Homo sapiens: one gene and its partner. The protein of the gene in region 1 interacts with the protein of each later gene in a pairwise test. Each region holds a gene or a part of one and is shown on either strand. Other genes may lie near its edges.

Region 1 (3,653 bases):
TGAACAATTCATAAGTTTTAAATTGCATGCCATTCTGAGTAGTGTTGAAGTTTCACGCTATCTTGTTCTGTCTGGCCCAGGATGTGAACATCCTTTGTCCAGTGCATCCATTCCATGCTGTATACGCTGCTGCCAGTTAGTCACTTAATAACCAACTTGGTTATCAGGTGGCAATTGCTTGTGTTCAAGTAACCCTTATTTTACTTAGTAATAGCCACAAAGTGCAAGAGTAGTGATGCTGGCAATTCAAATGTGCCAAAGAGAAGCTGTAAAGTGCTTCCTTTAAGTAAAAAGATGAAAACATGAAAAAAAACATAGTATATGTAAGGTTCAGTAATATCTGCAGTTTCAGGCATCCACTGTGGGTCCTGGAATGTATTCCACAAAGAGAAGAGGAGACTATTGATTACTAACATGGAAAAGATATTCAAGGACTTGGAGGCAGAGGCAGCAGTGGGCCAAGATCACGCCACTGTACTCCAACCTGGGCAACAGGGCAAGATCCTGTCTTAAAAAAAAAAAAGAAAAAAAGGAATGATAGTATAGCAAAAGGGTGGGCAAAATCAGGTTAGGTTGGCCAGGCACAGTGGCGCATGCCTGCAATCCCAGCACTCTGGGAGGCCAGGGCAGGTGGATCACTTCAGCTCAGGAGTTCAAGACCAGCCTGGGCAACATGGCAAAACCCTGTCTGTACAAAAAAAAAAAAAAAAAAAAAATCCACAAAAATTAGCCGGGCGTGGTGGTACATGCCTATAGTCCAGCTATGCAGGAGGCTGAGGAAGAAGGATCACTTGAGCCCGGGAGCTTGAGGCTGCAGTGAGCTGAGATCATGTCACTCACTGCACTCACTGCACTCCAGCCTGGGTGACAGAGTGAGACCTTGTCTCAATAAATAAATAAATAAATAAATAAATAAATAAATAAATAATAATAATCAGGTGACTGAATCTGTTGGCGGGGTGGCGTAGGAGTGCAGATGGTGAGGCATTATTATAGTCTCAGGCTGGGCGTGGTGGCTTACGCCTGTAATCCCAGCACTATGGGAGGCTGAGGCGGGCAGATCTGGGCAGATCACAAGGTCAGGAGTTCGAGACCAGTCTGGCCAACATGGTGAAACCCAGTCTCTACCAAAAATATACAAAGTTAATTGGACGTGGTGGTACATGCCCGTAATCCTAGCTACTCGGGAGGCTAAGGCAGGAGAATTGCTTGAACCCAGGAGGCAGAGGTTGCAGTGAGCAGAGATCGTGCCATTGCACTCCAGCCTGGGTGACAGAATCAGACTCCGTCTCAAAAAAAAAAAAAGAAAAAAAAAAGAAAAGAAAAGGTAACAAGGAACTAGAACTAGAATGTTACAGTAAAGACATAAATGATGTCTAAGTTGGTCTAACTTGTGAAAAGGGGATAAGGTCAGTTTTCTCTTTCTCAAAGCTCCCAACATTTATTTACAACAAAGGAAACTGGATGAGTAGCTCACTCAGTAAGTAAGCTACTTTTCTTTTTTTTTTTTTTTTTTTTTTTGAGATGGAGTTTCACTCTTGTTGCCCAGGCTGGAGTGCAATGGCACGAACTCAGCTCCTGCAACCTCCGCCTCCCAGGTTCAAGCAATTCTCCTGCTTCAGCCTCCCAAGTAGCTGAGATTGCAGGCGCATGCCACCACGTCCGGCTAATTTCTGTATTTTTAGTAGAGAAAATGAAGTTTCACCATGTTGGCCAGGCTGGTCTTGAACTCCTGACCTCAGGTGATCTGCCTGCCTTGGCCTCCCAAAGTGCTGGGATTACAGACATGAGCCACCATGCCCACCTAGTAAGCTACTTTTCTACAGGGCAAGTCAGGGTGCATGGTGGAGGCCAACCATAGGGGCTTGTTTCCCAGAATAGTATGTTTGAGAATACTCCCATTAACTCACTTGTTGCTCTCGCTTCTGCTTCCGGAGCTGAATGCCCTCTTCCTCTCTTCTTCGTCTCATTTCTTCAGGGTTTAGAGCATTGTTCTTATAGCTCTTCATTCGATAATTGTCTTTCCCTGGGCTCGCCATGGTCTCTAGAAGAAAAGATACACACTGCCAAAAACTCTTGAGAGGACAGCATTTCCTTTTCACTAGACTTCTATCCCTACCCACCCTTCACCCTCCCCTACTCTGGGGGGAATACAGCTCTCTGGGAGCTCTCAATAGCACCTGACATCTCTACCCACCCCCCAGCCCCAGTATCTTTTAATTACAATAAGCTTGCTAAACAGGTGGTATTAAAGCAATTGGTATAAGCTTAGTAGTTAAAAGTGTGGGCCCTAGAGACAGATTGTCTGGGTTCACATCCTGACCCTTCTACTTGTTAGCTGTGCAACCTTGGACAAGCTCCTGTAACTTTTATTGCTTCAGAATTTAATCTTTAATAAAACAGGAACACATCAGGCACAGTGGCTCCCACCCGTAATCCCAGGGGTCTGCAGACCATACTTTGAGAAATGCTGTTTTTTTTTTTTGAGACAGGGTCTCACTCTGTCACCCAGGCTGGAGTGCAGTGGCACGGTATCGACTCACTGCAACCTCTGCCTCCTGGGCTCACGTGATTCTCCTGCCTCAGCCTTCCGAGTAGCTGGGATTACAGGCGCACACCACCACAACTGGTTAATTTTTATATTTTTAGTAGAGACGGGGTCTCACCATGTTGGCCAGGCTGGTCTCAAACTCCTGACCTCAGGTGATCCACCTGCCTTGGCCTCCCAAAGTGCTGGGACTATAGGCATGAGCAACCACGTCCAGCCAAGAACTGCTGTTCTAAGCAGTGAATTACTCAGTTGTAGGTAAATAAATGTTAACTTGACCAGCTAGTGCCAAAGTTGTCTTCCATAGTACTGCCACTGACAAATATCTTGACCAATACTTTTGACAATCTACTGGGTGTCATAAAGTATTTCACAGAGATGATTATTTGCATATCCCAGATTACTAATGAGGTTAGATTTCATGTTGTTATTAGCTATATGTTTCCCCTTCTGTGAAAAATGTTTGTTTCTGTATTTTTAAATATTTTTCTTCTTTTTTTTTTTTTTTTTTTGAGACAGAGTTTCACTTTTGTTGCCCAGGCTGGAGTGCAATGGCACCATCTTGACTCACTGCAACCTATGCCACCCAGATTCAAATGATTCTCCTGCCTCACCCTCCTGAGTAGCTGGGACTACAGGTGCCTGCCACCACGCCTAATACGGCTAATTTTTGTATTTTTAGTAGAGACGGGGTTTCACCATGTTGGCCAGGCTGATCTCGAACTCCTGACCTCAGGTGAACTGCCTGCCTCGGCCTCCCAAAGTGCTGGGATTACAGGCATGAGCCACTGCGCCTGGCCTGTTCACGTTCTTTTAAATCAGTTATCTGTGACTGTGTACTTTCTTCATCCTTAATATTGTCTTATTTGTGCCCTCTTTTGTTCCTGAGAACCTTTACCAGAGACTTGACTATTTTTATTTTAGTCTTTTGCAAGATCCAAGTTTTAGCTTCATTGAGTCTTCTCTACTATATGATTTCTATCCCCTTTCTACATTTTTTCTAATTTAAGTTGTATATCTAAGTAATTAAATGTTCACACTATACTTTTTTTTTTTTTTTTTTTTTTGAGATGGAGTCTCACTCTGTCACCCAGGCTGGAGTGCA
Region 2 (3,753 bases), on another chromosome or scaffold:
CATTCACAATGTGCTTTGCAATTGTTCCTTAGCAATAGCCCTCACAAGATTCTCAGGAGGAGAGGGTTAATCAGGATTAACATTTCTGTGTTGCCTAAAGAGGAACCAAGGTAAGCAGAAATGTAGCCAGTTGGCTGGCATCACTGTTGCTTCAGGATTCATCCTTAGACACCCAAGCTTCTACCCTAGTCTGGTGCTACACTTACATTGCTTACATCCAAGTGTGGTTATTTCTGTGGCTCCTGTTATAACTATTATAGCACCAGGTCTATGACCAGGAGAATTAGACTGGCATTAAATCAGAATAAGAGATTTTGCACCTGCAATAGACCTTATGACACCTAACCAACCCCATTATTTACAATTAAACAGGAACAGAGGGAATACTTTATCCAACTCACACAAGCTGCTTTCCTCCCAGATCCATGCTTTTTTGCGTTTATTATTTTTTAGAGATGGGGGCTTCACTATGTTGCCCACACTGGACTAAAACTCTGGGCCTCAAGTGATTGTCCTGCCTCAGCCTCCTGAATAGCTGGGACTACAGGGGCATGCCATCACACCTAGTTCATTTCCTCTATTTAAAATATACATGGCTTAAACTCCAACTGGGAACCCAAAACATTCATTTGCTAAGAGTCTGGTGTTCTACCACCTGAACTAGGCTGGCCACAGGAATTATAAAAGCTGAGAAATTCTTTAATAATAGTAACCAGGCAACACCATTGAAGGCTCATATGTAAAAATCCATGCCTTCCTTTCTCCCAATCTCCATTCCCAAACTTAGCCACTGGCTTCTGGCTGAGGCCTTACGCATACCTCCCGGGGCTTGCACACACCTTCTTCTACAGAAGACACACCTTGGGCATATCCTACAGAAGACCAGGCTTCTCTCTGGTCCTTGGTAGAGGGCTACTTTACTGTAACAGGGCCAGGGTGGAGAGTTCTCTCCTGAAGCTCCATCCCCTCTATAGGAAATGTGTTGACAATATTCAGAAGAGTAAGAGGATCAAGACTTCTTTGTGCTCAAATACCACTGTTCTCTTCTCTACCCTGCCCTAACCAGGAGCTTGTCACCCCAAACTCTGAGGTGATTTATGCCTTAATCAAGCAAACTTCCCTCTTCAGAAAAGATGGCTCATTTTCCCTCAAAAGTTGCCAGGAGCTGCCAAGTATTCTGCCAATTCACCCTGGAGCACAATCAACAAATTCAGCCAGAACACAACTACAGCTACTATTAGAACTATTATTATTAATAAATTCCTCTCCAAATCTAGCCCCTTGACTTCGGATTTCACGATTTCTCCCTTCCTCCTAGAAACTTGATAAGTTTCCCGCGCTTCCCTTTTTCTAAGACTACATGTTTGTCATCTTATAAAGCAAAGGGGTGAATAAATGAACCAAATCAATAACTTCTGGAATATCTGCAAACAACAATAATATCAGCTATGCCATCTTTCACTATTTTAGCCAGTATCGAGTTGAATGAACATAGAAAAATACAAAACTGAATTCTTCCCTGTAAATTCCCCGTTTTGACGACGCACTTGTAGCCACGTAGCCACGCCTACTTAAGACAATTACAAAAGGCGAAGAAGACTGACTCAGGCTTAAGCTGCCAGCCAGAGAGGGAGTCATTTCATTGGCGTTTGAGTCAGCAAAGGTATTGTCCTCACATCTCTGGCTATTAAAGTATTTTCTGTTGTTGTTTTTCTCTTTGGCTGTTTTCTCTCACATTGCCTTCTCTAAAGCTACAGCCTCTCCTTTCTTTTCTTGTCCCTCCCTGGTTTGGTATGTGACCTAGAATTACAGTCAGATTTCAGAAAATGATTCTCTCATTTTGCTGATAAGGACTGATTCGTTATACTGAGGGACAGCAGAACTAGTTTCCTATGAGGGCATGGGTGAATACAACTGAGGCTTCTCATGGGAGGGAATCTCTACTATCCAAAATTATTAGGAGAAAATTGAAAATTTCCAACTCTGTCTCTCTCTTACCTCTGTGTAAGGCAAATACCTTATTCTTGTGGTGTTTTTGTAACCTCTTCAAACTTTCATTGATTGAATGCCTGTTCTGGCAATACATTAGGTTGGGCACATAAGGAATACCAACATAAATAAAACATTCTAAAAGAAGTTTACGATCTAATAAAGGAGACAGGTACATAGCAAACTAATTCAAAGGAGCTAGAAGATGGAGAAAATGCTGAATGTGGACTAAGTCATTCAACAAAGTTTTCAGGAAGCACAAAGAGGAGGGGCTCCCCTCACAGATATCTGGATTAGAGGCTGGCTGAGCTGATGGTGGCTGGTGTTCTCTGTTGCAGAAGTCAAGATGGCCAAAGTTCCAGACATGTTTGAAGACCTGAAGAACTGTTACAGGTAAGGAATAAGATTTATCTCTTGTGATTTAATGAGGGTTTCAAGGCTCACCAGAATCCAGCTAGGCATAACAGTGGCCAGCATGGGGGCAGGCCGGCAGAGGTTGTAGAGATGTGTACTAGTCCTGAAGTCAGAGCAGGTTCAGAGAAGACCCAGAAAAACTAAGCATTCAGCATGTTAAACTGAGATTACATTGGCAGGGAGACCGCCATTTTAGAAAAATTATTTTTGAGGTCTGCTGAGCCCTACATGAATATCAGCATCAACTTAGACACAGCCTCTGTTGAGATCACATGCCCTGATATAAGAATGGGTTTTACTGGTCCATTCTCAGGAAAACTTGATCTCATTCAGGAACAGGAAATGGCTCCACAGCAAGCTGGGCATGTGAACTCACATATGCAGGCAAATCTCACTCAGATGTAGAAGAAAGGTAAATGAACACAAAGATAAAATTACGGAACATATTAAACTAACATGATGTTTCCATTATCTGTAGTAAATACTAACACAAACTAGGCTGTCAAAATTTTGCCTGGATATTTTACTAAGTATAAATTATGAAATCTGTTTTAGTGAATACATGAAAGTAATGTGTAACATATAATCTATTTGGTTAAAATAAAAAGGAAGTGCTTCAAAACCTTTCTTTTCTCTAAAGGAGCTTAACATTCTTCCCTGAACTTCAATTAAAGCTCTTCAATTTGTTAGCCAAGTCCAATTTTTACAGATAAAGCACAGGTAAAGCTCAAAGCCTGTCTTGATGACTACTAATTCCAGATTAGTAAGATATGAATTACTCTACCTATGTGTATGTGTAGAAGTCCTTAAATTTCAAAGATGACAGTAATGGCCATGTGTATGTGTGTGACCCACAACTATCATGGTCATTAAAGTACATTGGCCAGAGACCACACTGAAATAACAACAATTACATTCTCATCATCTTATTTTGACAGTGAAAATGAAGAAGACAGTTCCTCCATTGATCATCTGTCTCTGAATCAGGTAAGCAAATGACTGTAATTCTCATGGGACTGCTATTCTTACACAGTGGTTTCTTCATCCAAAGAGAACAGCAATGACTTGAATCTTCAATACTTTTGTTTTACCCTCACTAGAGGTCCAGAGACCTGTCTTTCATTATAAGTGAGACCAGCTGCCTCTCTAAACTAATAGTTGATGTGCATTGGCTTCTCCCAGAACAGAGCAGAACCATCCCAAATCCCTGAGAACTGGAGTCTCCTGGGGCAGGCTTCATCAGGATGTTAGTTATGCCATCCTGAGAAAGGCCCCGCAGGCCGCTTCACCAGGTGTCTGTCTCCTAACGTGATGTGTTGTGGTTGTCTTCTCTGACACCAGCATCAGAGG

The links.
Region 2: the proteins of KPNA6 (region 1) and IL1A interact in binary tests that used the Homo sapiens proteins (3 or more experiments, as listed by UniProt).

Annotation. Positions count from the first base shown.
Region 1 is NC_000001.11:32,152,979-32,156,631, reverse strand, and holds part of KPNA6 (importin subunit alpha-7), read right to left. Parts: intron 2,045-3,653; coding exon 1,911-2,044; intron 1-1,910. UniProt on the Homo sapiens protein: Functions in nuclear protein import as an adapter protein for nuclear receptor KPNB1. Binds specifically and directly to substrates containing either a simple or bipartite NLS motif.
Region 2 is NC_000002.12:112,782,353-112,786,105, reverse strand, and holds the start of IL1A (interleukin-1 alpha precursor), read left to right. Parts: upstream 1-1,612; 5' UTR 1,613-1,663; intron 1,664-1,705; exon of another isoform or gene 1,706-1,791; intron 1,792-2,327; 5' UTR 2,328-2,335; coding exon 2,336-2,382; intron 2,383-3,341; coding exon 3,342-3,390; intron 3,391-3,753. UniProt on the Homo sapiens protein: Cytokine constitutively present intracellularly in nearly all resting non-hematopoietic cells that plays an important role in inflammation and bridges the innate and adaptive immune systems.